Regions from separate parts of the Homo sapiens genome. Here regions 2, 3 and 4 are each linked to region 1. Evidence: fine-mapped expression QTL. A gene starts in region 1. Each other region holds a variant in brackets. All regions are shown on one strand. Distances are from middle to middle. Region 1 holds the start of LMNB1 (lamin B1). Region 2 overlaps LMNB1 (lamin B1). Region 3 overlaps LMNB1-DT (LMNB1 divergent transcript). Region 4 has its middle 79 kb from the start of LMNB1.

What was found. PIP is the estimated chance that this variant, and not a neighbour inherited with it, causes the effect.
Region 2: its variant is fine-mapped to the expression of LMNB1 in whole blood (TOPMed, PIP above 0.99).
Region 3: its variant is fine-mapped to the expression of LMNB1 in whole blood (INTERVAL, PIP above 0.99).
Region 4: its variant is fine-mapped to the expression of LMNB1 in whole blood (INTERVAL, PIP 0.98).

What each region holds. Positions count from the first base shown.
Region 1 is chr5:126,773,560-126,781,213 of GRCh38, reverse strand. It overlaps LMNB1 (lamin B1), which reads right to left and starts at 4,078. Exons shown (of 11, transcript NM_005573.4): 1 at 3,347-4,078. The coding sequence starts at 3,705. LMNB1-DT (LMNB1 divergent transcript) reads left to right here and starts at 4,728. Exons shown (of 4, transcript NR_134485.1): 1 at 4,728-4,919. RefSeq lists enhancers at 939-1,028, 1,039-1,108, 2,412-2,501, 3,517-4,317 and silencers at 2,992-3,101, 3,312-3,361, 3,672-3,751, 3,952-4,601, 5,252-5,301.
Region 2 is chr5:126,806,338-126,813,991 of GRCh38, reverse strand. It overlaps LMNB1 (lamin B1), which reads right to left. Exons shown (of 11, transcript NM_005573.4): 4 at 3,642-3,812; 5 at 2,094-2,219. Among named protein-coding and RNA genes, the nearest start is that of LMNB1, 33 kb to the right of the region's middle. The variant T/C (reference allele first, on the strand shown) is at 3,913.
Region 3 is chr5:126,750,402-126,758,055 of GRCh38, reverse strand. It overlaps LMNB1-DT (LMNB1 divergent transcript), which reads left to right. Exons shown (of 4, transcript NR_134485.1): 3 at 2,344-2,519; 4 at 5,635-6,093. It also overlaps the pseudogene RNU6-752P. Among named protein-coding and RNA genes, the nearest start is that of LMNB1-DT, 22 kb to the left of the region's middle. RefSeq lists a silencer at 3,650-3,816. The variant C/T (reference allele first, on the strand shown) is at 3,423.
Region 4 is chr5:126,851,987-126,859,640 of GRCh38, reverse strand. No RefSeq gene overlaps it. Among named protein-coding and RNA genes, the nearest start is that of LMNB1, 79 kb to the right of the region's middle. The variant G/A (reference allele first, on the strand shown) is at 4,338.

The sequences.
Region 1 (7,654 bases):
GGTTCAAGCAATGCCTCCTGCCTCAGCCTCCACAGTAACTGGGATTGCAGGCGTCCACTACCACACGCGGCTAATTTGTGTATTTTTAGTAGAGACGGGGTCTCGCCATGTTGGACAGGCTAGTCTTGAACTCCTGACTTCAGGTGATCCACCTGCCTAGGCCTCTCAAAGTGCTTTACAGGTGTGAGCCACCGTGCCTGGCCAGGAAGCTGTCTTTAATAAGTTACAGGACATCAGTACACAGCCTACCTTAAGCAAAGAGAACTCTAGGGAAGAAAGCAGATTCATGTGATAGATATTATGATTAAATATCTTCAAAAAGTCTGCAAACACACTGAGGGCAAATTTTTCTTAACAAGAAAAATGAAAAGCTATTGAGGAATAAATCCATATAAAAAAAGTCCTAATTCAAATAAGGAGCAAACTAAAATGTGGCATGTTTTGAGCAAATGATGGTATGTTGGGGGGAAAAGAAGAGTCATCTAATCCTGGCAATAGGAATATACATACAGTAGCACAGACTTAAGAAAAATATAATCCCAGAACACTACTAACCCTCAGAGAATAGGTACTGTCAACTCCTCAGACAGGCCTTCCTTAATCACACTAACCCTTCACTCCGCTTTATTTTTATTCCCTTAGCATCTGCTATTACCTAAATTGTATCACATGCATTATTTCATTGATTCTAATACACATTATTCTCATTTTTTAACCCCGCTGAAACCAGCATGCATTTTAGAATCGATACATTTACAACTACTGTCAGCCAGGTGGCAGCCTTGTTACTGTGTGAAAAACCTCCTGTGGCTAACTCCTGGAAAGATTACAAAAGCGCCAGCATCAAAATGCTTCACATCAGACAAAAGACAATCTTTCTTTACTTGCTGGGATATAGCTCCCCCACTACACTCTCAGCAACAAAGAACAGTAATTCATTTTTTTAAAAAAATCTTCATATCCTCTAACATAGAACGGTGACTGGTACGCAACAGATATTTGATCTGTGTTAATTTTTTTTTTTAGACGGAGTCTCACTCTGTCACCCAGGCTGGAGTGCAGTGGACCATCTGGCTCACTGCAGCCTCTGCCTCCTGGATATCAAGCGATTCTCCTGCCTCAGCCTCCCCAGTAGCTGGGATTACAGACGCCCGCCACCACGCCCGGATTTTTTTTCTTTTTTGAGATGGGGTCTCACTCTGTCGCCAGGCTGGGGTGCAATGGCGCAATCTCAGCTCACTGCAATATCCGCCTCCTGGGTTCAAGCGATTCTCCTGCCTCAGCCTCCCAAGTAGCTGAGACTACAGATGCATGCCACCACGTCTGGATAATTTTTTGTATTTTTAGTAGAGACGGGGTTTCACCTTGTTAGCCAGGATGGCCTCGATCTCCTGACCTCGTGATCCGCCCGCCTCGGCCTCCCAAAGTGCTGGGATTACAGGCGTGAGCCCCCGCGTCCGGCCAATTTTTGTATTTTTAGTAGAGACGGGGTTTCACCATATTGGTCAGGCTGGTCTCGAACTCCTGACCTCAAGTGATCCGCTCACCTCGCCTCCCAAAGCGCTGGGATTACAGGCGTGAGCCACCACGCCCGGCCCTGTTTGACATTTTAATATCTATGAAACCCATCATGATGGGTCCAACAGGATGGATCCTACACAGTTGGTCCTGATGTTTTTATTTTCTTAGTGGTACACATAATAATGGCAAGTCTTACAAGCAACGATATCTAAGATTTGAAGGAATTCAGTGGCAAAAAATTTGGAGGAACATAGAAATAATAGTGTGAGTTAACTGACTGCTCATTTTAAAAGATGAAACCAAGGCTTAGTAAATCCAAGAAAGGGAAATACAAGCTTAGTATTATTTTCGAGTTGTATAACTAAATATCCAAAGAAATAAAAACAAAAAGGGATAAATGTGATTGCCTCCGGAAAGAGGTAGTGCAGTTATCGTTTTTCGCTACAAACCAGTCTATACTATTTTATTCTTACCACGTGCACATGCTTTTTTATGAACCGAAAACATATGATAGGAGGGATAAGTAAAAATACACAAAATCTCAGAGACTTCGGACAGGGACATTCACGCAGATACAGACAGAAAGACATCCAGGGGCAAAGGGTGTCAAAGTGAGAATAAGGTACCTCCAGAAATTTCAGCTGGCAGTGCTAATGGCGACCATGAATTTCAGACCCAAATTTTGCAAATCTCTAAAGCATGACATCAACACTTGTTGCCTACTGATGACAGGCCATTTTGCTTATCAGAAAGTCAAAATAAGGCCAGCAAAGGTCTGCAAATGTATCCTTGTGCACTGGAATGAAAACTCGCACTCGCTTAGGTGAATTACAAACTCTCCTTCGCTCAAACACTCAGCATTTACACAGCACCCTGTCACCTGCCCTGGTCTACTATCTGCACAGTGGTCGACTAAGGGGTACTAAGCACAGTCTCTACCCGAAAGCCTGACTATACTACGAGGAGGCAAAAGCTGGGGACAGAGGGCCGCTGCCTGAGGGGTAGGAGAACCGCAATTCTAAGAACGGTAGCCGTGACATGCACAAACCCAGCTTTCCTTCCCTGCGCAGAACCACCCGAGGGACCGCACCATCCCCGCTGGGACAGGACACATTTCCCCAGAGAAAGCTAACCAGCTAGCAAACCTAACTTGCCCGGGGCTGGCTGGAGGCGCACGGATCAAGCTCCGCCTCTCTCTCCCGCCTAAAGCAGGCGTAGAATCTTCGCAAAACGTCACAGGGCCAAGACTGAGCGCGCCAAAGCGGGACCCACCCCCAGGAGACGCGGATGCTGCGGGAAGGTCCCTCCCCTTCCTCTCTCTGCCCGCGCGAAGCTCATTCATTCTAGAGGCGGGCTGCCAGTCCTCCCCGGCCGCCCATCCCGGCACTGCAAATCCGCTAGACGCTTTGTCTCGCGCCGGCCGGAAACTGGGGCGCGCACGCGAGCGCGCGCTCGCGCTCCAGCTCCCCGCACCTGGGGCCTGAGGGGCCGCCTCTCCGCGCCGGCTCCCCGGATTCGAGTGCGAAAGCGGGAGCTCCTTCTCGGCAGTCCCAGGCGCGCACTTACCACGTCCCAGCGGGTATCCAAAATCTAGAAATGGGCATCACGGCCCCCCAGCGCTACAGCTCGAGCCCCCTCCGCGACCCCTGCTCCGCTATGAACTCTAGATTCTTTCTCCTTTCCGGAGACCGAGACCCTGTTCCTTCAGAAGGACGCGTGCATCCTGGCCTCTGCTCCCTCCCCACGGCAGAACCCGGTGAGCTGGTCGCCGCGGTTGCGCCCCCGCCCCTCCTTGGCGCTAACGCGGCCGCCAGCTAGCACTCACTTGAGGAGCAGCTGGTCGTGTTCCGCCTTGCACTTGCCCAGCTCGATCTGCAGCTTGGCGCGCTCGCGGGCCGTGTCGTCGAGCGCGCGTCGCGCGTCGGCCAGCTCGGTCTCGTAGAGCGCCTTGAGGCCGGTGAGCTCACGGCCGCGCACCTCCTCGCGCTCCGTCACCTGCAGCTGCAGCGCGCTGTTCTCCGTCTCCAGGCTGCGCACCTTGTCGATGTACACCGCCAGCCGGTCATTGAGCTCGCGCAGCTCCTCCTTCTCCTGGAGCCGCGACAGGCGCGTGGGGCTCAGCGGCGTGGTGGGGCCGCCAGCGCGGCTGCCCATCCGCGGCGGCACGGGGGTCGCAGTCGCCATGGCGGGCGGCGGAGACAGCGGGGCGGCGAGGCCGCGAGCGGGACCGTGATAAGGAGGGGACGGCAGGGGGCGAAGCGGGGACCGAAGGCACAAACCGGCGACCTGCGCTCACGTCCAGACGCTGGCGTTTAGAGGAACGGAGAAGCACCTGGGATGGCGGGAGCTCGATTACAGCACAAAGGGCAAAGGCGCGCGGGGGGGAACTACGAATCAATCGATCGATCGCGAAATACCCTTTGTAAGAAAACACACACACCCACTCACACACGCACGCGGGAAAATGCAAGACGAGGGTGACTGGAGGCCCAGCAGGGTTCGCGCCGCCGCCGTCTCCTGCTCGCAGCACTTTGTTTCCTCTCAGGCTGCACGGAGCGGCGGGCGGGGGGAGGAGGGCCGGGAGGGGCGGGCTGGAGGCAAGCCGCGGGGGGCGGAGGTGGCGCGGGCCGCGGCGCCGCACTCCCCAACATGGCCGGCACGCCCCGGCGCCTCCACGTGACTACCATGGGCCAATGGGGAGCAGGCAGCGCGCTTCGGCGGTTCGGGGGCCGGGCCTGTAAATTTAAAATCTGGCCCTTGGGCAACCGTCAGCTCGGCCCTCCCGGCTGGGCGGTTCCCGGACCAGGCTCAGGGCTGTAAGGAAGGACGCCTGGGACTGCCCACCCGCGCGGCTCTGGGCCCAGGGCCCTCCCGCCGCCCCGCGGGGACCCCTTGGAGGGGCCGGGCCTGAGAAAGGCGGGAAGGAGCCCGGAGGTTTCCGGGACGGATCTGCGCCACCGCCCACACTCGGCGGTTCAGGGAAATTCAAATATAAACGTCCCTAAAAGCCACACGCGAAACTCAGAGTGTCCCCGGCCACCGCGGGCGTGGTAACCTTATCCCCCGCTCCGCTGGAGGGCTCGGGAAACGGCCTGGAGGCCGGGACGCTGTGGAATTACGTAATAGGCACTTGAGTCCGAGGTTCCAAATGCACGGCTTGCAGGTTCCAAGTACCAGCCTTTATTTTTCTCTCCGGTGGAAAACTGTATCAGGCAACTTCTTTCCATGAAAGTGAGATCTGTGCGTCTTGAAGCCGATAGATTATCACAGAAAAACCAGCAACCCTGATTTTAAATCATTTGCCAACAGTGTTAATGGGCGGTTCCTAATCCGTTTCTTAATTTAAGGGTTTGTAAAATCAAAAAACAGCTCAGAAATGATACGATTAACATATGACGGTGAGTAACTACGAGAGCAAGCTGTTTCATACTCCGTTAAAATCAGGTACATAAAAATCTGAACTTGTGAAAATTTAAGATGAAATAATTTTTTGCTTTTAAAAAGAGGCTCCCAAGATGTCACTGGCAGCTACTTCTATTAGAAAGCACATTCATCCCTTTGAAAAGTTCCTAATTTTTAGCTAACATTTATTGGGACTGAGTGCCAGCACCAGGCTTTTCATGGATTACCCATCCACACAATCTCCGTGTGATGTGGGAAACTGGATTGTTTCTATTTGAAAATTCATCCGGGCGGGCGCGGTGGCTCACGCCTATAATCCCAACACTTTGGGAGGCCGAGTGGGGGAGGATCACCTGAGCTCAGGAGTTCAAGACCAGCCTGACCAACATGGTGAAACCCCGTCTCTACAAAAATACAAAAATTAGCCGGGCATGATGGCGGGTGCCTGTAATCTCAGCTACTTGGAAGGCTGAGGTGGGAGAATCCCTTGAACCCGGAAAGGGGAAGTTGCAGTGAGCCGAGATGGCACCATTACACTCCAGCCTGGGTGACAGGGAGACCCCGTCTCAAAAAAGAAAGAAAGAAACCATCCATTTTATAGATTCACTGTCTGAAGGCTGCTCCGCAGGACTGCGTTTGACAGGTCCCAGGATTCTAATTGACTCGAGTCTGGCCCTTAGCTATACCCTAGATGACCACCTTACCACCTATTAGGAACGCTTCTGTAATTAATGGTTACTTACTTTTAAAATGGCAGAAATGGAGACCAGGATATTCTTTAACTGTTAATCAAGTCATGTACATAAGAATTAGTGAAGAGCACTGGGAGCTGCATATTCATCCCAGATGAATTTTTGGCACTCTGTGAATGATGACATTCTCCTTATTAATGGTTCTATTTCCTGTCCGGTTTCCTAAAATACTTCCTTGCTTTTTGGGGGGTGGGGGGGTGGGGGGGAGGATGGCAGGGAGACGGAGTCTTGCTCTGTCGCCCAGGCTGGAGTGCAATGGCACAATCTCAGCTCACTGCAACTTCCACCTCCCGGGTTCAAGCGATTCTCCTGCCTCAGCCTCCTGAGTAGCTGGGACCAACGCCACCATACCCGGCTAATTTTTTGTATTTTAGTAGAGACTGGGCTTCACCGTGTTGCCCAGGCTGGCCTCGAACTCCTGATCTCAGGCAATCCGCCCGCCTCGGCCTCCCAAAGTGCTAGAATTACAGGCGTGAGCCACCGCGCCTGGCCATGAAATACTTCCTTTCTTAACCTCATTGAGAAATAAAGAATCGAAAAGCTTAGACTTTAAGTATTCAAGTAATCTTAAAGGGAACTTTAAAATCTAAATTACTGATGAGAAAACCGGCCGGGTGTGGTGGCTCAGCCTGTAATCCCAGCACTTTGGGAGGCCGAGGTGGGCAGATCACTTGAGGTCGGGAGTTCCAGACCAGCCTGTCAACATAGTGAAACCCCGCCTCTACTGAAAATACAAAAATTAGCGGGGTGTGGTGGCGCGCGCCTGTAGTCCCAGCTACTCCGGAGGCTGAGGCAGGAGGCAGGAGAATCGCTTGAACCTCAGAGGCAGAGGTTGCAGTGAGCTGAGATTGCGACACTGCCTAGGCGTCAAAGCAAGACCCTATCTGCAAAAAAATAAAAAAAATTTTTTAAAGTTAAATAAAATAAATTACCGATGAGGAAATTAGACCAAAAGAAGGTGAGTGCTGGGTCCCAGGCTGTGGAACCAGGATTGGAATGTAAATCTGCTTGTTCTCACTTGGTTGTGAGACCCTTTCCACTACGACAGGTGATATAGTCAATCCATATGGTTTTATGGTTTTCATTCCTTGCTCCCCTTTACCTGTCTTTTAAAAATACTTGGTTGGGAGGCCGAGGCGGGCGGATCACGAGGTCAAGAGATGGAGACCATCCTGGCCAACATAGTGAAACCCCGTCTCTACTAAAACTACAAAAAAAAAAAAAAAAAAAAATAGCTGGGCGTGGTGGCACGTGCCTGTAGTCCCAGCTACTCGAGAGGCTGAGGCAGGCGAATGGCTTGAACCCGGGAAGCGGAGGTTGTCGTGAGCCGAGATCGCGCCACTGCACTCCAGCCTGGCGACAGAGCGAGACTCCGTCTCAAAAAAAAAAAAAAAAAATTGTCAGTTTTCTTTTAAAATTATTTCCTGTCCATTTTTTAAGTTTTAAGATTATATGTGATTCCAGCAATGATCTCTATTGCTCTCAACCCCATGAAGCTTTGTTTTTTGTTTTTGTTTTTGTTTTTTTTTTGAGACAGAGTTTCGTTCTTCTTGCCCAAGCTGGAGTGCAGTGGCGCGATGTCAGCTCACCACAACCTCCATCTCCTACCTCCTGGAGGGTTCAAGCGATTCTCCTACCTCAGCCTCCCGAGTAGCTGGGATTACAGGCCTGCGCCACCACACCGGGCTAATTTTGTATTTTTAGTAGAGACGAGGTTTCATCATGTTGGTCGGGCTGGTCTCCAACTCCTGACCTCGTGATCCACCAGCCTCAGCCTCCCAAAATGCTGGGATCGTAGGCGTGAGCCACCACGCCCGGCCTGAAGCTTTCTATTGATAGAGTTCCTCAATTTTCAGATTATTTGAAGAGGCTCACATTATACATATCCTATTATATAAAACAACTTTCTTGGAGTCAGACAATTGAGGATGTGCTACTGATAGCTGTATAACTTTAAGAAAATTATTCCGTGATTTCCT
Region 2 (7,654 bases), 33 kb before region 1:
CCTGGGAGGCGGAGGTTGCAGTGAGCCGAGATTGCGCCATTGCACTACAGCCTGGGCAACAAGAACGAAATTCTGTCTCAGAAGAAAAAAAAACAACAAGAAAAACAAAGACAGTGATACAGTCTGTGTGTTTGTGTTCCCACAAATTTCATGTTTAAATCCTAACCCTCAAGGTGATGATATTAAGAGGTAGGGCCTTTGAGTGGTAATTAGATCATGAGAGGAAAGCCCTAGTGAATGGGATTCATGCCCTTATAATATAGGGCCAAGGGTGCTCATTCACCCTTTAACCATGTGAGGACACAGCAAGAAGGCACCATCTATAAATCGGGGAACAGCCCTCACCAGGCAGATATCCAATCTGCCAGTGCCTTGATCTTGGACTTCCCAGCCTCCAAAACTGTGAGAAATAATTTCTGACATATCTGTTGTTTATAAGCTACCAAGTCAATAGTAGTTTGTTATAGCAGCCCAAAAGGACTAAGACAGATGGTGCAATGGAAAAAAAGATTATCTGTTAAATTTCTAAAAGTAAATCTTCTTTGAAGAAAATGAGTTATAAAAGGAAAAACTGGGAAGGAGTAGAGAAACCCATTTATCAGTCTGCAGCCTCTGGGCAACGGGCAAATCATTAAACTCACCTAGATCTGTGGTTACATGGAATGAACTCAGAGGTGCTTCCAGCTCTGCTATTAAATGAAAATCTTCAAAACACTATCAGCACAAAATAGGTTTAAAATAATTTAAAAATTTGTGCCGTAAGTAACAAAGCACATGATAGACAGTGTAAAAGCCCCTGTGTTAACTAAATTATTTTATATCACCCCATTTTATGGGACTCATTTTCTGCTTTATTTCTAAGTTCCTGCAACAGAGGTCATCAGTTTTATAATTAGAAAAATATTTTACTAAAAATGGTAAAAAGAAAAAGGAAGGAAGAAAAGCCCAATCAAGAGTAAAATAGGCTGGGCACGGTGGCTCACGCCTGTAATCCCAGCACTCTGGGAAGCCGAGGCGGGTGGATCATGAGGTCAGGAGATCGAGACCATCCTGGCTAACACGGTGAAACCCCGTCTCTACTAAAAATACAAAAATTAGCCGGGCGTGGTGGCACGCACTTGTAGTCCCAGCTACTTGGGAGGCTGAGGCAGGAGAATGGCGTGAACCCGGGAGGCGGAGCTCACAGTGAGCCGAGATCGTACCACTGCACTCCAGCCTGGGCGACAGAGTGAGACTCCATCTCAAAAAGAAAAAAAAAAAAAAAAAAAAAAAAGTAAAATAAAGTTTATTCTCATGTGGAAAATTCAAAACAAGATTTCCTCCCTTGAGGAAAATAGAAGCGGAAGTTATTTCCAAAATAATTAAGGTGACGAGTTAATTGCTGAATCATTCTGAATGCAGTATATGGAGTATATGTACTTTGTGTCCACACTGACATCACCCTAGGCTAAAACTGATCTGAAGTAGTGTCCATGCCTGCTTAAGCAGCACCTGAAGCACACCATCACACCCTGATAGGCAGCCAGTCAACACAGCCGGCAATAATGCCATTTGTCACTTAGGCGTACCAACGAATGAATGAGTCACTAAATTCTTATCGGAATATGCAAATTAAAGCTACTTTCCTGGATCCTAATTGTTATATACTTTAAGCACTAAAGAATTTGTCTAGAAACACAAAGCATTCACCACCCACAAAGAATTTTTGCATGTTTTTCTTCATTTTGGTTTTCAAATGATATAAAAAAGGAAGGTGTTGAGAATAACTCTGTAGAGATGAAGCTGTTAGACAGGTCGGAAGATCCGGGTCCTAGGGTAAGTACAGTGAATAAACTAGCAGGCTCCTTCCTCAAGGGCAAGTCCCTTAGCTCTGTGTAATCTACTAATTAGGAACAATAGTATCTGCTCACAGGATGTTTATGCAATGCAAAATGAACGAATCTAGAAAAGTACTGTGAAGACGAAAGCACAGGATGACACCATCCTCTGTAACAAACAGAGGGAGGAGTGACATCAGCCCAAGCAAAGCAGGTAGGTGCCCGTGGTGAAGGTAGCCTTCAAGTCTAACTTCTTACAGAAAGATGATTATTTACCTCTTTCTGTAGATTAGAAAGCTGGGATGAAAGGCTCTCAATTCTCATGCGGCTTTCCATCAGTTCTTCCCTGGCACTGTTGACAGTAGAAGTATTCATCTCTGATGACAGTCTGGCATTCTCAAGCTAAAAGAAGAAGCAAAGCATAGTCAGTCTTATCTAGAACTGAAACAAAAAAGGAAGCATGATTCACCTCAAGGCATTTCAAACCTAAGTCCTGCTGGTAACTGGTAGATGAAACACAGGAAAAGCATCATGAAGTTTGCTGATATGGTGTGAATGATGGTAATTCTGTGTGACTTTTAGAGTCACTTCCTAAATAATGAGCTTTAAGAATGCTAATATACCTAGGCCTTTACCCAAAGCTTATTACTTCAATATTTCATCTATTAAACCTTTAATGTCTAAGATAACACTGATAATAAGAAGACTGGGCAATAGCAACTTGACTGTGGTGGTGTCTGTAAGAAAAGAAACATCACATATCCCTAACCCACCAAATCCAATACAGAATGTAAACCAACAAGCAGAAAATACTAGTTTATAGATTCGTTCAAACCAGATAGAAACACTTCCTTTCAGAAGCAAAAAAAACTCCTTGAGTAAAATACAAATCCCATAACACTATTGTGTATGTGTGTCTCAGGGACATGCTCCTGTGTCTCCTCCCTGGCTCCCTGTGAGGCCACAGTCTGTGACGGATCCTTACTTTAGCTCCTTCACTGTATAGCTCAATGTGTGATATTAGATAAATGTTATACAACTGAAGTTACTGCTTATAATAAGATCTTTCACTTTCACTAACTGCTACTTCATACAATAGATAAAAAGCAACATGAACAGTTTAAAGCCATGCAATGAAAATTTTCAATAACTCTGTGACTCTAATATTCTAAGTCAACCACAAAAAAGTCTTTTTAATCAAATCATGTAACATTTAAAACACAAGGCAAAATCATTTACCAGGGAAAGCCTGTACTAGTTGGTGATTTTTATGAATTCTTGTAAGGTCAGCTAATATAAGTGGGAAGTTTCTACAATATTTTTTTAAGTGAATAATAGTGACAGAAGAAGAAATAGCAGAGACTTTCCATTTGGCCCTTATGCAAAAAAGCCGGAAGTGTGGTAGTCACAATCTATGCACAATGATGACATGAAAGTGAGATCTAATGCAGTCTGACATTCATTCATTACTAAATGGATGTTTATGTAGGACAGCATGATCAGTACTTGTTATTGGAAGAAAGTTATTTCACATGGTTTGGGTTCAACTACTATGGCATAGTACGAATGATCAATGGGACAAAAAGACAAAACCTAACCTCTAATAAAATTGCAACAACCCTACATTCTTCTAGTAATTTTTAATAACATTTAGTTTATAGAAAACTGCACTTTTTTGAAAAAATCAATTTTCTATATATTTCATGGAGACTAGGGGAATCATTTTTAAAAACTAGAACAAAATAAACATAAAGCCATGTTCATCATGGGAATTGTGAAGTAATGATTTTAAGTGTTCAAAAGAATCTTCTGAAGAGAGCTCACTTTGGCATGGTAAGTCTGCTCCAGCTCCTCCTTATACAGCCTCACTTGGGCATCATGTTGCTCTCTCATCTCATGAAGGGCTTGCGCCAGCTTGTACTCATACTCAATTTGACGCCCAGAATCCACCTCTACCAAGCGCGTTTCATGCTTCCTTCTGGTCTCGTTAATCTCCTGGGGAAAAAACAAAAAGCATAAAGCCAAGCTACTTACCATGGCTGCATTGGTACACATCTGAGTGACATCACAGCCATCTGAAGTTTTACACACGAAC[T/C]TCCTCCTGTTTGTCCTCAGGCGGTCATGTGAATAAACACTTTTTTGCCTCTTAGTTTTCAGTTGAGGTTTTTGAAATGGAACTAATGACAGAAGTGGTAGCATCTCAAGCCTTAGGAACTTTCTATTCCTTTTCAGGAGCATAGCTATTTATTTTTCTGAAGCCAAGGAAAGGCCTGGATGGCCTACTAAAACTATCTGCAATCAAGGATTTATACACAGTATACTATACTAAACACTAAGCAAAAATTATTTTTCTGAATTGTTTCATTGATAATCTTAAGAACATCTCTGAAAAAACAGCACATGGAAAGTTAAACTTAACAGTTGTGATAAATTCATGTAAAGATTTATGTGAAATGAAACTATTTTCTTTTCTTTTCTTTTCTTTTCTGAGATAGAGTATCACTCTGTCGCCCAGGCTGTTGTGCAATGGTATGATCTCAGCTCACTACAACCTCCGCCTCCCGGGTTCAAGCAATTCTCCTGCATCAGCCTCCCTAGTAACTGGGATTACAGGCACATACCACCATGCCCAGCTAATTTTTGTATTTTTAGTAGAGATGAGATTTCCCCATGTTGGCCAGACTGGTCTCAAACTCCTGACCTCAGGTGATCCATCTGCCTCAGCCACTCAAGTTGCTGGGATTACAGGTGTGAACCACCTTGCCCAGCCATAAAACCATTTTCTTAGACATAATAATAGGCAGCACAAGCTAATTTACATGACTTCTTTAAAAGCCGGTATTAAGCTATCATTATCAAGTGACACAGGATCTTATTAACAATATTAGTTGACTAACTCAAATATTTATGAAAAATTTACCATTGAAGAATAGAAGTAGTTGTCATGATCCTTTCCTTTACTCTGTTTTAAGGAAGTGTCTAAATAAAATTAGAATGGAAGGCTGGGCGCGGTGGCTCACGCCTGTAATCCTAGCACTTTGGGAGGCCAAGGCAATCAGATCACCTGAGGTGAGGAGTTCAAGACCAGCCTGGCCAATATGGTAAAACCCTGTCTCTACTAAAATACAAAAATTAGTCAGCCATGATGGAGGGTGCCTGTAATCCCAGCTACTCAGGAGGCTGAGATGGGAGAATCACTTGAACCTGGGAGACGGTGGTTGCAGTGAGCCAAGATCGCACCACTGCATTCCAGCCTGGGCAGCTGAGCTGGACTCCGTCTCAAAAAAAAAAAAATAATAATTAGAATGGTAATATCTGAAGAAGCCACAAGAGGGAAGTATAACCCACCAAAGTTGCTGTTTGTGTATATTAGCGCATGTATTTTCCTTTGCATTTCTTCATCTTTCTCTTAACTACTACACAGGAGCATGCACTTGACAAAATCTGAAAAATCAGAAAAATCAGGAGGATTCTGCTATCACCTTCCCAGAGATCACATCTATTTCATGAAGCAAATAATACCTAAATCACAAAAATACTGAAGAGTGACTGCTAATGGTTTGTTCTTTGTCTACCTCCTCCTTCCTCTTTCGTCTTTCTCCTTCCTTTTTTCCCCCAACTGTTCATAATAAGGAAGTTAGATATTATTACTGAATATATATCATGAATGTAAAAAAAAAAAGTTAAGGCCAGCGTAGTGGCTCACACCTGTAATCCCAGCACTTTGGGAGGCTGAGGCGAGTGGCTCACCTGAGGCCAGGAGTTTTAGACCAGCCTGGCCAACATGGTATTACTTAGTAAAAAGTAAGGAAAAAAAAAAAAAGTTAGCCAGTTGTGAGGGTGTGAACCTGTAATCCCAGCTACTCGTGAGGCTGAGGCACAAGAATCATTTGAATCCAGGAGGCACAGGTTGCAGTGAGCCAAGACCGTACCACTGCACACCAGCCTGGGCAACAGAGTGAGACTCTGTCTCACACAAAAAAATTTTTTTTAAAGTAAAAAAGGCCAGGTGCGGTGGCTCACAACTATAATCCCAGCACTTTGGGAGGCCGAGGCAGATGGAGCACTTGAGTTCAGGAGTTCGAGACCAGCCTGGCCAATGTGGTGAAACCCTGTCTCTACTAAAAATACAAAACTTAGCCGGGCATGGTGGCACATGCCTGTAGACCCAGTTACTCCAGAGGCTGAAGCAGAAGAATCGCTTGAACCCAGGAGGTGGAGGTTGCAGTGAGCCAAGATCGTACTACTGCACTCCAGCCTGGGCGAGAGAGCAGGACTCTGTCTCCAAAAAGAGTTAAAAAAAACAAAAACAAAAACAAAACTGAAGAGGACTATCTTAACATCCATTCTCAAAAAGGCAAAGGCCAAAAATTCAAAGATGCTATGCACTCTAAAAATATTAAATTACTTTTTACTGATGCTATTTTTTATATAGAACCAGTGACCTTACAAAGAAAAAAAACCCTACTCCTGGTTGTCTACACACAACATCAGAAATAAGTAATGATAAATCACAATTTTTACAAAACAAAACAAAAATGTAAGTCAACCTCATATCAAAATATCTGCTTTAACAAAGCAACACTTAGTAACAATTATATGACAGCACTTGCTACAGTATCCAAAGAGTTTTCACACACAGTATTCCACTTTGATCCTTACCACTCATTGAAGAAAAAAATAGCAGTATTAGTATTTCATTTTAAATAAGAAACTGACACTAAGAGTTGTCCAAGGTCTGACTGCTTGTCTGGTGCACCTTGCACTAATATCTATTTTGTTTAAAGCCTGTAATTTTAAAAAATAATCAGATTTCTATTATTTTTCCTCCAACTAAAAAACTGGTTTGCTAACTGCTACAATGAATTCCTATTTGCACTGTTTTCAAAATTACACTACTTCTAAAAACATTAAGCCTAGCACATTAACAGCATGTTCTCCCCCATGAGTTGATTTCAACCCTCTACAATTTTCATGAAATATACATTCCCCTTTCCTCAATTTTATTACTTCCTTTGTTTGACAACGGTTTTGCCCCTGCCCCTTGACCACAGCAGTTAAGGCTTATAAGTGATATTTTAAGATTTCCACATGAGTGAGCCGGGCACGGTGGCTCACGCCTGTAATCCCAGCACTTTGGGAGGCTGAGGCGGGCCAATCACAAGGTCAGGAGATTGAGACCATCCTGGCTAACACGGTGGAACCTCGTCTCTATTAAAAATACAAAAAATTAGCAGGGCGTGGGTGCATGCGCCTGTAGTCCCAGCTACTAGGGGGGCTAAGGCAGGAGAATAGCTTGAACCCAGGAGGCAGAGGTTGCAGTGAGCCAAGATCATGCCACTGCATTCCAGCCTGGGCGACAGAGCGGGTCTCGTGTCTCAAAAAAAAAAAAATTTACACGCCTATAAATGCTGTGAGTAGCCGCATTTCCAGATGTGAGCCATAGGAGAAGGCCAAAGTGATGGTATGTAACCTCTGTGATTAGGTTATAGAAGACAATCTGGCTTCTGCCTTGGTAGCTGGTAGCATGTATTCATGTTCTCGTTGTGTTTCTTTCTCTCTCTCTCTCTCTTTCTCATCACTGACCCTTAGGGGGGCCATATCATGAGCAGCCCTATGAAGAAGACCATGAGGTGAGGAACTGACACGTCCTGCCCACAGCCCTGTGAAAGAGCTCAGATGCCATTCCTCCAGCCCAGGTTAAAAGCTGTACTGCAACCTCATGGGACCAAGAAACAGAACCACCCAGTTTAGCAGCTCTGAATTCTGACCTTCAGGAACTAAGAAATTAATACAAGTCTGTGGTTTTAGGTTGATGAACTTTGGAAGTAATTTGT
Region 3 (7,654 bases), 23 kb after region 1:
CTAGCTATCACCAGACAAGAAATATGATTCTCCTATTTGCCTGAGAAATAATGCTATCTGGACAAACTGATGTTTGTTTCACTAAAAAAAAAAAAAAAAAAAAAAAAAATCTCTTGCTAACCTAGGATTCAGTTTTTTTAAAAAAACACATTGTTTTTTCCCTATACTTCTTTCTTGTTCTGACTTCTTTCTTCTCTTTTTCTAACTTGTAGTAATACAAGCCACTCACTTTTAAAAACTTAACAGTGCCAGCTTAAAAAAGGAAAGGCAATAGGAAAATAGAAAATAAACTTTGAAAATTTCAAAACTGTAAATATTGGCTTAGAATATGAATCCGATTAGAATCTTAGAGATAAGCTGTAGCTAAGCTTACTATGAAAAGACTTGCTCCACAGTTGTATTCAAAAGCAACAATGTAAACTTGGAAAAGAAGACAAACTATAAAAAACTATGGGGTTTTGATGCCAGAATTTTTACCTCGCTATAATAACTTGGTAGAATAAATTGTCCAAGTGTATCTTTTTAATAACAGAAGGAAAGGGAAGCAAACCAACTTTAGTTTAGAATAGTTTTCTAAGTTAGATGAAATAATGCTGTGACCCAGATCTGAACAGAACACCAGATGCTTCCTACCTACAGGAGACATTTGCAAATTTTTTGGTTGCTCACCCTCTGAACTGTCTTCCTACGTTTGAGGAATTCCTCACCATTTGAGTCTTAGTAAGAAACAGGGTCCTGCTCCCACTCTAGATGCTAAAAAGCCATCCACCCATGTCAGCCAACTATTTCTTTTGCAGGCCTAGGTGTCGCCAATCAGGTGTACCAGCTCCAGATTTTTTTTTTTATACAGGATCTCGCTCTGTCGCCCAGGCAGGAAAGTGCAGTGGCATGATGTTGGCTCACTGCAACCTCCGCACCACCACATCCAGCTATTTTTTCGTAGAGACAAAAAATGTTGCCCAGGCTGGCCTCAAACTCCTGAGTTCAAGCAATCCAGCTGCCTCGGCCTCCCAGAGTGCTAGGATTACAGGTGTGAGCCACCATGCCTAGCTCCAGAATTTTGACTTTGGAGCCAGTCAGTCAAAGCAATGGAAGAAAGGCGCATCCATTCTGGTAGCCACACCCAGTTTCAAAAGGCAGTCAGGGCTGGATGCTGTGGCTCACGCCTGTAATCCTAAAACTTTGGGAGGCCAAGGTGAGCAAGTCACTTGAGGTCAGGAGTTCGAGACCAGCCCAGCCAATATGGTGAAACCATGTCTCTACTAAAAGTACAAAAATTAGCTAGACTTGGTGGTGCACGCCTGTAATCCCAGCTACTTGGGAGGCTAAATCACGAGAATTGCTTGAACCTGTGAGGCCCAAGTTGCAGTGAGTGGAGATCACACCACTGCACTCCAGCCTGGGTGACAGAGCAAGACTCCATTTCTGGAAAAAAAAAAAAAAAAAAAGGCAGCGGGGACGACAGCACGATCCTACGTGCTGGTGAGTGTGGCAGCTGTAGACTCTCCTCCTTCTTGGCAGCAGCAATGACCTGCTCAGACACATCCTGGGACCCCGGTATGTAGCCTCCTTTGACCTTGGACTTCTTGCCCTCCCGTGATTCTGTGAGCTACCCAAAATGTTTTCAGTACTGTCCTTTTCTGCTTATGCCAGAATCAACTTCTGTTACTGATTCTAAAGAACCCTAAGGGACACAGAGCCTCTGGAATAGTGACTTAGAATAAAAAAAGAGAGGCTGGGTGCGGTGGCTCACGCCTGTAATCCCAGCACTTTGGGAGGCCGAGACAGGCGGATCACGAGGTCAGCAGATCCAGACCATCCTGGCTAACACGGTGAAACCCCGTCTCCACTAAAAATACAAAAAATTAGCCGGGTGTGGTGGCGGATGCCTGTAGTCCCAGCTACTCGGGAGGCTGAGGCAGGAGAATGGCGTGAACCCGGGAGGCTGAGCTTGTAGTGAGCCGAGATGGTGCCACTGCACTCCAGCCTGGGCGACAGAGCAAGACTCCGTCTCAAAAAAAAAAAAAAAAGAATTAAAAAGAGAGAGGAACCAGGGCACGAAATATAGTTTCTTATAAGCTGTATACTACTCACAAAAGACATCTAATTGAAGATAAGATCATTAATTTATGTGTATATTTTTCCTTAGTGTAAGCCAGGGAGGTGTGTCCAGGAGGACACACGGGGGAGTGGGGAGGCTGCAGAGGACAGGTGGGAGGGGCGGCAGGAGAGAGAAGGGGCCCCGGGGGGAGAGGTGGCTTTCACTGGCAGTTGGGAAATAGTGAAGGGAAACCTCATCCCTTTATCGAGGTCTAGGCCCCAAAACTCTTTTGCAAAATGCAGGGCTTGTATCTGAAGGCCTCTGGCCAATGTGCCTGCTGCCATTTCCTCTGTCCCTGAGGTCTCCAGAAGAGAAAGGAGCTCCAGCCTTGCATTCTTTGGGTGTGGAGAGGAGCAGAGCAGAATGGAGCCTGCAGGTCATGCCAGGAGTCACCGCAAGGCTGTGGCTGTCAGCTCAGGTACCAAGCTCAGGCACGCGGTTGTAAGAACACCTGGGGTGGAAAGCCATGTGCAGAGGATGATGATATTAAACAACCTCTTTTACAAACAAAACTCTTTTAGTCTAAGCCTAATTATAGTGCTCCCTTTGGCTGTACATACACTAAAATTGGAATGATACAGAGATTAGCATGGTCCCTGTGCAAGTATAATGCAAATCTGTGAAGCTTCCATTAAAAAAAAAAAACTGGAGGCCGGGCGCAGTGGCTCATGCTTGTAATCCCAGCACTTTGAGAGGCCGAAGTGGGCGGATCATGAGGTCAAGAGATCGAGACCATCCTGGCCAACATTGTGAAGCCCCATCTCTACTAAAAATACAAAAATTAGCTGGGCGTGATGGCTCACACCTGTAGTCCCAGCTACTCAGGAGGCCGAGGCAGGAGAATCGTTTGAACCCAGGAGGCGGAGGATGCAGTGAGCCGAGATTGTGCCACTGCATTCCAGCCTGGCTACAGAGCGAGACTCCGTCTCGGAAAAAAAAAAAAAAGGGGGAAGAAAATACAGCCTGGACATATATCAAGGCCTTCTCTCTAGAAAAATAAAAATAAATATAAAAATTAGCCAGGCGTGATGACTTTCACCTGTACTTCCAGCTGAGGCTGAGGTAAGTTGGAGGATGGCTTGACCCTGGGAGGTCGAGGCTGCAGTGAGCCTTGAAGCCATGATTGCACCATTGCACTCCAGCCTGAGTGACACAGCGAGATCCCATCTCAAAAAAAAAAAAAAAAAAAAAAAAGGCCTAGTTATAATAGAGCAATATTCTTAAGTGTTTTGTTTGGTGTGATGAAAAAGTTTGGAAATAGTGCTAATGGTTGCACAACATCATAAATGTAAGTAGTGGCACTGAATTGTACACTTAAAAA[C/T]GGTGAAGATGGCAAGTTTTGTTGCATATATTTTACCATAATTTTTATTTTTCACAATTTTTAAAAATTAATAATTTTATATACCAAAACCCATTGAACTATACACTTTAAGTAGATAAATTTTATAATATGTGAGTTATGTCTCAACAAAGCTGTTTTCGCTTTTATTTTTTTGAGACAGAGTCTGGCTCTGTTGCCCAGGCTGGAGTGCAGTGGAGTGATCTTGGATCACTGCAACCTCTGCCTCCCAGGTTCAAGAGATTCTCCCGCCTCAGCCTCCCAAGTAGCTGCTATAACAGGCATGCACCACGCCCAGCTAATTTTTGTGTTTTATTTATTTATTTATTTTGAGTTGGAGTTTTGCTCTTGTTGCCCAGGCTGGAGTGCAATGGTGCAATCTCAGCTCACTGCAACTTCCGCCTCCTGGGTTCAAGCGATTCTCCTGCCTCAGCCTCCCAAGTAGCTGGGATTACAGATGTGCCACTGTGCCCAGCTAATTTTGTATTTTTAGTAGAGATGGGGTTTCTCCACGTAAGTCAGGCTGGTCTCCAACTCCCGACCTCAGGTGATCTGCCCACCTCAGCCTCCCACAGCACCCAGCCTTAATTAATTTTTTTTTTTTTTTTTTTTGAGACGGAGTCTCTTTCTGTCGCCCAGGCTGGAGTGCAGTGGCACGATCTCGGCTCACTGCAAGCTCCGCCTCCCGGGTTCACGCCATTCTCCTGCCTCAGCCTCCCGAGTAGCTGGGACTACAGGTGCCCGCCACCACACCTGGCTAATTTTTTTGTATTTTTAGTAGAGATGGGGTTTCGCCATGTTCTCCAGGATGGTCTCGATCTCCTGATCTTGCGATCTGCCCTGCCTCAGCCTCCCAAAGTGCTGGGATTACAGGTGTGAGCCACCATGTCCAGCCTAATTTTTTTTTTAAGGCTGAATAATAGAATGTTAGGAAAGAGCATGTCAGTTAATGTGATGATCACTGTATATAGAAAATAAGCAAAACTTGCCTTTAGCTGTAATACATGATTATAACATTAAAGTCTATGTGTGGTTGGCAATGCACTGCCCCCAGTGCTCTCTGAGAATCTCCTGATGTGTCCTCAGGAGTGGATGCTTCTCAGCCTTGTTTCTGCTGTGTGGTTCTATCCTATCATATTATCATCGCTCACTGGCCCAGAGGTGACCCCGAGCAAAGAAGGAGCAATTAGCTTCTCTTTTCCAGGAAGTAGACATTTTGATGAAGAAGCGCTTGAGGCAGCACTCTAAGGAGAAGGTCTCTGCATGAGTGCATGCTCACAGAGTTCTCCAGATGTGCCCTGGCTTCTGTCCCCTTGAGGCCTGGTCTCCCACTCTTCCTCGGATTCAGGGTTGCTCTGGTATTCTAGTAGTGCCTCTACCCCCTTGTGTTTTTGTTTTTTGCTTAAGCTGTTTTAGTTTTTAGTCCCTTGTGACCAGAGAATATTTAATTTAATATAATACAGCACAAATATTTAATATGATATTATTTCAGTGCTAACACAGAATTTCTGGCTTATGGTAAAATAAAGATCATACGGTCATCTGCCACTTCCCACTGTCCTTTCTGAAGTACAAGAACTCCAAACAGCTACAGCTGATGTGTTTTTTTTGTTTGTTTGTTTTTTAATTATTACACTTTAAGTTTTAGGGTACATGTGCACAACGTGCACGTTAGTTACATATGTATACATGTGCCATGCTGGTGCGCTGCACCCATTAACTCGTCATTTAGCATTAGGTGTATCTCCTAATGCTATCCCTCCCCCCTCCCCCCACCCCACAACAGTCCCCAGAGTGTGATGTTCCCCTTCCTGTGTCCATGTGTTCTCACTGTTCAATTCCCACCTATGAGTGAGAACATGCGGTGTTTGGTTTTTTGTCCTTGCGATAGTTTACTGAGAATGATGATTTCCAATTTCATTCATGTCCCTACAAAGGACATGAACTCATCATTTTTTATGGCTGCATAGTATTCCATGGTGTATATGTGCCACATTTTCTTAAAGCTGATGTGTTTTAAATTATTTGAAGGTAAGTTAACACAATGTTTTAGAAAATCACTTAAGGACTCTGGGGGAAATATGAGGTCTGTTAACTTAAATGTTTTTTTTTTTTGTCCTGGGTAGTTTTTGTGGGGTTTTTTTGTTTTTTGTTTTTTTGTTTTTAAGTAAAAATACGTTATACTTCCTTTCAGAATTCCATCATCACTTGGGAGATTTCTGCGAATCATCACTAAAGCCATTCACTTTCTCATAACTAAACAAGAATCTTCTTCTGGAGTTAAGTATCAGATATGAATGTTCTCACTGACCTCAGGAAGCAAAAGTCCTAAATCATTATATGGCAGTGAAGGTACAAAAAAAAAAAAAAATCAGCAGGAAATAAAGCGGAACTGCTGCCAACACATACAAGCTGCAGTAGCACCCACAAAATGTGTAGTATCTATTCTAACACATTCATTGGACTGATTACATTGGCTCATAGACTTGGTTAACTCTGGAAGAACATAATAGGTGTTTATTGTTTACTATGGGGATGGGAAACATAATTAAGTCTATAGTCTCCAATTCTTCTCAAGTTCAAATGAAACCAACACTTTTGGTTTTGTCTTAACATTCAGGATGTGTTTCTAATTAAACTGAAATCACAGTAAGCACCTCCACTTTCTTTCTTGGGATCTCTATCATGAAAATTAATTGTGTGATTTTCCCCTCCCACCCAACCCCGCTTCTTCTGGAAAAAGCTATATTTACACTTGCTATACCTGAAAATCCCCATTTGGGGCAGAGTAGGCATTATGGCATTTGTCTGATCTCTGGTGTGCCCAAAAAGAAATCGCCTGAAACTGGGGGCATATTAAGAATGCAAATGGTGATTTGGGTTAGAGTTCCAACCTGTAGCTAACTAGAACATCCTTTCATTGACTTCTACTCTCTCAATTAGTGTTTTGTTTTTTTTTTTGGTTTTTTTTTTTTGAGACGGAGTCTTGCTCTGCCGGCAGGCTGGAGTGATGCAGCACGATCTTGGCTCACTGCAACCTCCGACTTCCTGGTTCAAGTGATTCTCCTGCCTCAGCCTCCCAAGTAGCTGGGATTACAGGCACGTGCCACCACGCCCAGATAATTTTTGTATTTTTAGCAGAGACAGGGTTTCACTATGTTGGCCAGGATTGTCTTGAACTCCTGACCTCGTGATCCGCCTGCCTTGAGCCTCTCAAAGTGCTGGGATTATAGGTGTGAGCCACTGCGCCCGGCCTTTTTTTTTTTTTTTTTTTTTTTTGAGATGGAGTCTCGCTCTGTTGCCCAGGCTGGAGTGCAGTGGCTTGATCTCGGCTCACTGCAACCTCCAACTCCCGAGTTCAAGCAATTATCTTGCCTCAACCTCTCCAGTAGCTGGGATTACATGTGCCTGCCACAGGGTTTCACCATGTTGGACCAGGTTGGTCTCGAACTCCTGGCCTCAGATTATCTGCCCGCCTCGGTCTCCCAAAGTGCTGGGATTACAAGCATGAGTCACTGGGCCTGGCCTAGTGTTCTTTATCACTCAAATAATTGTTAGACGATCTTAAGAGAACTCCTAGTCCTACGTTTTTGTGAGGATGTCTTATAAGACCACACATTTCCTGGTCTAAATGCAAATTTCAAACATCTCTTAGAGGTTTTTTCGTTAAGTTCAGTGAGTGAGTCTTATTGTTACCTACAGGTAGTTGGATAGGCAGGAGCCAGACAGGAGAGGGCTCTCCCCCACCCACTAAGCCTATCAGCAATTACGGCATTGCCTCTCCGAGTGCGATAATTCGGCAGCGCCAGGGAAAAGGCATTTCCTGAGGGTCCACACCTGTTAATATGAAATGTTAATTGAATGCAAGCCTCAGGGAGAAGAAACTTCCTGGGCATGCATATTAAGAGGCAAAAATGGCGAATTATGATCTTCCAGGTAAACTCCACCGGCAAAAGGAAGAAAGCCTCAGATAGGCATGCTTATGACTCCCTAAACACACTGCGCTGTGCTCAATTCCAAAGGGTAAGGAGGGCACTGTGCAGGCGGGCAGCCCACCCTAAGGGAAGAATCATGGGAAAGAGGTGAGCTTATACAAGTCCTAGTATCACCGGGCGCGGTGGTTCATGCCTGTAATCACACCGCTGCACTCCAGCCTGGTGACAGAGGGAGACTCCGTCTCAAAAAAAAAGTCCTAGTATCACAGTTAAATGGGG
Region 4 (7,654 bases), 78 kb before region 1:
CTCCGCCTCCCGGGTTCACGCCATTCTTCTGCCTTAGCCTCCCCAGTAGCTGGGAGTACAGGCACCCACCACCACGCCCCGCTAATTTTTTGTATTTTTAGTAGAGAAGGGGTTTCACCATGTTAGCCAGGATGGTCTTGATCTCCTGACCTCACGATCCACCTGCCTCGGCCTCCCAAAGTGCTGGGATTACAGGCATGAGCCACCATGCCTGGCCATGGAAAAAAATTAATAAACATTTCTATAACCTCTTACATCTATAGACAACATACTGTTAAATATTATTTTTAAAATTTAATTGGCAAATATTTGTCTTGGGATTGATGAGTTTAATCTACTTACTTTTATTTTACTATCATGTTGGTGTTAATTCTACCACCTTTTTTCTTTCTTTCTTTCTTTTTTATGAGATGGAGTCTCACTCTGTTTCCCAGGCTGGAGTGCAATGGTACAATCAGCTCACCGCAACCTCCGCCTCCTGGGTTCCAGCAATTCTCCTGCCTCAGCCTCCAGAGTAGCTGGGATTACAGGCAGCCACCACCACACCCTGCTAATTTTTGTATTTTTAGTAGAGACAGGGTTTCACCACAGTAGCCAGGCTGGTCTCGAACTCCTGACTTCAAGTGATCCTCCCGCCTCGGCCTCCCAAAGTGCTGGGATTACAAGCATGAGCCACCGTGCCCAGCCCACTACCACCTTTTTTCATGTCTCATTATATTTTCCCTGTGATCTCATATTCTCCTGCGGATCTTGACTACCTTGGCTAGTGGTGAGTATTCAGGGTGAGAAGAGCTGAATCCCTGGTGGGTCAGCAGGGAGGGCGGGGCACACACTGAGGGTGGGAGATCCTCTGGGGTTGCCGTTTGGACTCGGCCACTCCCCATTTGCCACAGTTAGCATGTGACTGTGCCCTCAGGGAACCGCCACATACCTCCATCCTGGCGGAAGTTCCATCTCCCTGAATTGCAGTCAGCTCGCCTTTGAAGAGGAGAAGGCTGGGGAAGAGGAAATTCCATGCGGTTGGCAGATCTGCCTGCACGTATTTTGTATGCACCTGCCCCCGTGTGGGTAGAATGCAGCCCTAATCTTACCCTGCTGCCCCGGAGCCACCTATTGCTATTGGTTGTTTTCTGGGGTGTGATGCTTCCATGGAGAAGCATTTCACAGGAGGGAGACAAGGATGCTACTCTCCGCCCATACCTGTCCCCTAGGTGTAGTGTCCTGTTCTCCCCCCGCACCTTCTGTAGCCCCCGTGTTCCCTGTTTTGTTTGGTTTGGTTTTTTTCTCAGACTCACCAACCATTATCTCACTTATTTGGCGCTTGCACGGGTGATTGGGGAAGGGGGCCAAAAGTCAGGGTAAATTTGCCATACTATATGCCATCAGCACTTCTCCAAAAGTCCTTCTTGGAATCCTGCAGTTGCCATGGGGACAGGCCATGGGAAAGAGACCAATCACCTTGGCTCTGGTGCCTTGGCCCCATTCAGCCAGTTTCTCTCTGCTTTATAGAGTGGGGATCTGGGCTAGATTTCACTGGAAAGAAAAGGATTGCGCTCTTAAAAATGATAATGTTGAAATTTGTTAAATCCTGTTTTATTCTAAAATTCTAGGTAGCCTCATCTGGTTCCCTGGTTCATGGGGACTCTGTGTTTACCAAAAGCAGTGAAGTGCTTGGTAGGAAAAAGCCTGCACCGCACGGGTCTGTCTTACATAAAAATGACACCCACACAGCATTCCTGGCTCTCATCCCTTCCCCAGTGCCAGAAAGGAGGCAGCCGTAACTTTCACCCAGCTGCAAATAAGTAATGCTCAGTAGACATATGAACTGTGTTTTACTCTCAGGGGGCTTAAAGACTGCTGACGTTAGGAATTTTTTTTAAGTCAGTCTTGAGATTTGTGAGAGAGAATGTCTGGAAGCCACCAAGAGGGCAGATCTGCAGAACACCGGTCCCAGTGCAGCCAATGCCAGGGAGGCCAGGCAGGCGGCAAGAAGGCCTGCGGTGGGGATATCACCAGCAAAGGGTCAGCTGCATTACTTTTACAATGTAAGAACTGGAACCGTGTTTTCCTGGCCTTTAAACAGTACACTCAGACAGGCTTTTGGGCACTTGGCAATTAACTTTGCTAATGTATAAAATGTCACTGGGTTTTCTCCATCATTGACCTTCCTTGTCACTCCCCCTGCCTCGTAACTGCAGGGCTGAAACTTTGTTAGATGCCTCTGGTTTGGCAGCTGAGGGTGCCCACGGCTCAGCCATGTCCATAAGACACCACATGATAGGTGCCCTGCTCACTCAAGGCTTGCCTCTATAAGGGCCTCTCAGCCACTAGGAGCCCAGGGAGACCAGGCTGAGCTGGCCCAGACATGGAGGTGAGATAAGGAGAGTCTAGGGAAGCCATCTAAGACTCTATCATCTGGGTATTGGTGGCTCTATTCTAGAGTCTGTGTGAGGGCCCAGGACTCAGTCCTCGTGGGCAACATCTTACAGCAAAATTAGCAGTCCTGAGTTAGGAGGTCTGCTATGTGAGGAGAGATTCCCCAGAAGCATGCACCATTCTGGACAGTACGCCAGGGTCGTGGGCAGCTCTGGCCGGGTCAACCTTTGCAGCTCCACAGAATCTTTGCATTGTGGGAGCTCTTAGGAGGAAGAGGAAAAAATCTAACATTTGTTAGTAAATCTGCTTCATCCCAGATGAGAAGGACTAAGAATCAGTCTCGGCCATGGTCTGCAAAAGTCAAGGGACTTCAGTTTTCTTGTTTTGGGGTGGTTTTTGTTTTTTTTGTTTTGTTTTCTTTTTTTAAGACAGGGTCTTGCTTTGTTGCCCAGGCTGGAGTGCAGTGGTGAGATCACAGCTCACTGTAGCCTCAATCTCCTGGGCTCAGGTGATCTGCCTACCTCAGCCTCCCAAGTAGCTAGGACTACAGGTGTGCAACACCAAGCCTGACTAATTTTGTGTGTGTATGTGTGTAGAGACTGGGTTTTGCCATGTTGCCCAGGTTGGTCTCAAAGTGGAGATCTCACCACTGCACACCAGCAATAGAGCAAGACTCTGTCTCAAACATAAAATAAAATATAAAATAAAATAAAATAGGCTGGGCGCGGTGGCTCACGCCTGTAATCCCAGCACTTTGCGAGGCCGAGGTGGGCGGATCACGAGGTCAGGAGATCAAGACCATCTTGGCTAACACAGTGAAACCCGGTCTCCACTAAAAATACAAAAAATTAGCCAGGCGTGGTGGCGGGCGCCTGTAGTCCCAGCTACTCCGGGGGCTGAGGCAGGAGAATGGTGTGAACCCGGGAGGCGGAGCTTGCAGTGAGCCGAGATAGCGCTACTGCAGTCTGGCCTGGGCGAAAGAGTGAGACTCTGTCTCAAAAATAAAAAATAAAATAAAATATGTACTGTGTACTTGAAAGTTGCTAAAAAAAAAAAAGTAGATCTTAAATGTTTTCACCACAAGAAAGATAGCTTGATGTAATCATTTCACAATGTATACATATGTCAAAACATCACATTTAACATCATAAATACATAAAATTTTTGTCAGTTATACCTCAATAAAGTGAACAGGAGAAAATAGAATATTATGTGACATACAGCGCATATGTAAATATTATCTTTAGTATATTCTGAAGAGTAAAATTGTATTACAAACTAAAAAAAAAAAAGTCATGCTATTAATGCTATATCTGGGATTCACTTTAAAATAATCCAAAAGATGACAGAGTAGAAGGTGCAAGTATGGATGAAATAAGATTGGCCACATGTAGGTAATTGTTGACTTCAGGTGATGTGTATATGGTATTCATTATACTACTCTCCAGTTTTATATAGGTTTAAGTTTTCCATTTGTGAAATCACTTGTATTTAAAAAAAAAGAGTTGGGCACTGCTGCCTGATATACGCTCTCTCTAAAAGAATTCACTGCTCTGCAGGGACTGGTTGCTGAGCAGAAGGGAGCCTATAGCTCATAGGCTGTAGGCTCAAGGTTGGTCATTTTACATAGAGATGTTAAGTATATGAAATCAAACATGATCAGAGTAGTACAGTAAGGCAATGGGCTGACTGTGCAGTAATTGTAGATAGGGGAAGGGAAGCAGAGGTCAGAGAAGAGGCCTCAGGCTCAGTGCCAAGAATGATGCTTTTGGTCACGGACAAAAGGGCTTCAGAGCATCCCGTTAAAAAAGAAAACCCACATCCTGCTGAGATTGGAGGCGGCCGATAAGGCTGTCGCCCATCTGACAGTGCTACAGTGATGGAGGCATCCCACCACACTCTAGAAACAAAAAGAAGACAAATGTCAACAGATGCCTCGATTCTGCTATCATCAAGTGTGC[G/A]TGTGCACATGGCTTGGTTTGAGGCAGGGGATGCGGGTTCCATGATGAGAGGGATGATTCTCATTAGCTTGTTCTCGATGCTGTCTTTGTGCGCCACAAGGTTAATACAGGAAATATGAAAGGCGCTCAGACTGCCAGGAGCAGCTGCTCGTGGGTAGGTCAGCCCTGAGCAAACCTTCCTTAGGTCCAGACCATGACTGTCCTGCCAATTGTTCATAGTGAGAGGTGACAGCGTGCTGGCAGCCCTCGCTCGCTCTTGGCGCCTCCTCGACCTCCGCGCCCACTCTGGCCGCGCTTGAGGAGCCCTTCAGCCTGCCGCTGCACTGTGGGAGCTCCACTCTGGGCTGGCCGAGGCTGGAGCTGGCTCCCTCTGCTTGTGGGGAGGTGTGGAGGGAGAGGCGCCGGTGGGAACCAGGGTTGGGCGCACACTTGCAGGCCAGCGTGAGTTCCGGGTGGGCGTGGGCTCGGCAGGCCCCCGCACTCCGAGCAGCCGGCCTGCGCCCCCAGCCCGGGGGCAGTGAGGGGCTTAGCACCTGGGCCAGCAGCTGCAGAGGGGGGCGCCAGGTCCCCCAGCACAGCCGGCCTGCCCGTGCCATGCTCAAATTCTCGACGGGCCTCCACTGCCACCCAGCCGGGCAGGGCTGGGGACCTGTAAGCAGCCATGCCCTACCCCCCGCCCCCCCCCCCCCCCCCGGCCCCTGCACTAGGCTCCCGCTCAGCCTGAGCCTCCCGGACGGGTGCCGCCCCCTGGTAGGAGGCACCAGGTCCCATCAACCACCCAAGGCCTGAGGAGTGCAGGCGCACGGTGTGGTACTGGCGGGCAGCTCCCCCAGCAGCCCTGGCACCGCAACCACTAGGCAAAGCCAGCTGGGCTCCTGAGTCAGGTGGGGACTTGGAGATCTTTTATGTCTAGCTAGAGGATTGTAAATGCACCAATCAGCACTCTGTGTCTCGCTAAAGGTTTGTAAATGCACCAATCAGTGCTCTGTGTCTAGCTAATCTAGTGGGGACTTGGAGAACTTTTGTGTCTGGCTCAGGGATTGTAAGCACACCAATCAGCACCCCGTCAAAACAGACCAATCAGCTCTCTGTAAAACAGACCAAACAGCTCTCTGTAAAATGGACCAATCAGCAGGATGTGGGTGGGGCCATATAAGGGAATAAAAGCAGGCTGCCCGAACCAGTAGTGGCAATCAGGTGAGGTCCTCTTTCCTGCCGCGGAGGTTTTTTTTCTTTTGCTCTTTGTAATAAATCTCGCTGCTGCTCGCTTTTTGGGTCTGTACTGCCTTTATGAGCTGTAACACCCAACACGAAGATCTGCAGCTTCACTTCTGAGGCCAGCCAGACCACGAACCCACCGGGAGGAATGAACAACTCCAAGAGCGCAGCCTTAAGAGCTATAACCATTTGCCGCGAAAGTCTGCAGCTTCAGTCCGGAAGCCAGCGAGACCACGAACCCACCAGAAAGAAGAAACTCTGAACACGTCCGAACATCAGAAGGAACAAACTCCAGACACACCATCTTTAAGAACTGTAACACTCACCGCGAGGGTCCGTGGCTTCATTCTTGAAGGCAGTGAGACCAAGAACCCACCAATTTCCGACACAATAGCACCCAAGCATCAACTTCACTCTGGTGGCTGGCGGGGGCCACTAGGAGGGCACATCCTCTGTAATCCATCCCAACGTGGGACATGGAGGGTGGGCTGTGTGTCACAGGGCGGAGCAACGATCTCTGCCACCTGAACGACGAAACAGGAGAAAAGCTTGTGAAACAAAGCCCTCCATGGCCCAGGTGAAGAAAAACATCTAGACAGATGAGCAAAATGGGTTTCCTCTCCTAGCGGAAAACTTACCATTTTAAAAGGTTATTCTGACCCAGAAAATAACGCTCTTGCCCTCCCCCCACCCCCAACACCCCACACACATACATCATGCATGAATACACACTGAAAAACTATGGCACAGACACACAGTCACACGCAGCATTAGAAGAATCCTGGGCCAGGTCAACTCTGTTGTCAGTATCAGCAAGTCTCAAAGTGAGCCCTCTGAAACCCCTGTGATCCCCTCTCCTCCCTCTCCCACACTCGTGATGACAGCTCCTTGTGGCTAAGTTCAGCACCAAGTAAGGAAGAAGTGCCTGCAACAAGCTTGCTTGAGGAGGAAAAACAGTAAGGCGGCAGGTGTCGGAAGCAAGTCACCCCCGGGAAAAGTCAGGGAGAAGTGGCCACATGCCCCTCTGGGGTCAGGATTAGAGCTCAGAAAATGACTCATTTGTCTCTACAACCCCGCAGTAGCGCTTCCAAACATGAGAGGGGGGTCACAAGCCCAGACAGGGTGAATTTGTTATTAAACAAACCAATGGAGGGCAGGCAGCACATATGTTCACGTTTCCTGCCTCTCCCATCTCTTTTTGGAACTGAATGAGCCCCTTCAAACAGCAGGCTTTTGGAATCCTGTCAGTTTCCTCGTTTACCACAGAGACAATATCTGCGCACTAAATAGTTTCCCAACTATAACCCTCCAAAATCAGGCTGGGCGCGGTGGCTCACGCCTGTCATCCCAGCACTTTGGGAGGCGGAAGCAGGTGGATCACTTCAGGTCAGAAGTTCAAGACCAGCCTGGCCAACATGGTGAAACCCCGTCTCTACTGAAAATACAAAAACTAGCCAGGTGTGGTGGCACACACCTGTAATCCCGGGATTACAGGAGGCTGAGGCAGGAGAATCTCTTGAGCCTAGGAGGTGAAGATTGCAGTGAGCTGAGATCGTGCCACAGCACTACAGCCTGGGCAAGAGTGAGACTCTGTCTCAAACAAAACAAAACAAAAAAGTCATTTGCATCAAGTCAGCCACTTCCTGCAGAGTCTGTTGAAGAGCACACACAGAAAAACAAATTGCCTAAGAGCAAGGTACCCTGGAGTACTCCGTTAAGGGGCTGATCTCATTACCGTAGTTTAGGATTCAGGTGCCAAGGATGACAAAATGAACTGCCTTGCTTTATTTCATAATTCAGTGTTTCCCAGCCTTCCACTATTCATTTTGGGAAAGAGTTGTCAAAAACCCATAGTTATTTCTCCCAGCAACCTGGGAGGGGAAGGAAGGAAAGTCACTCAGGCTTAGTCACATGTCTTTCTGGCGTGCCAGAGGCTTTGTCCATTGGGGATACTTCAATCCTCTTTCCCAGCTGAGGCCTTAAACTATTTGTTTAAATGAAAATCTGAAATAAAACTACAGCTGTTATCAAGAACAGGCAGGAGATCCTGTCATCTTGGTTCCATGGATCAAGCAGAGGGCCAGTGTTCAGTGTTTGTG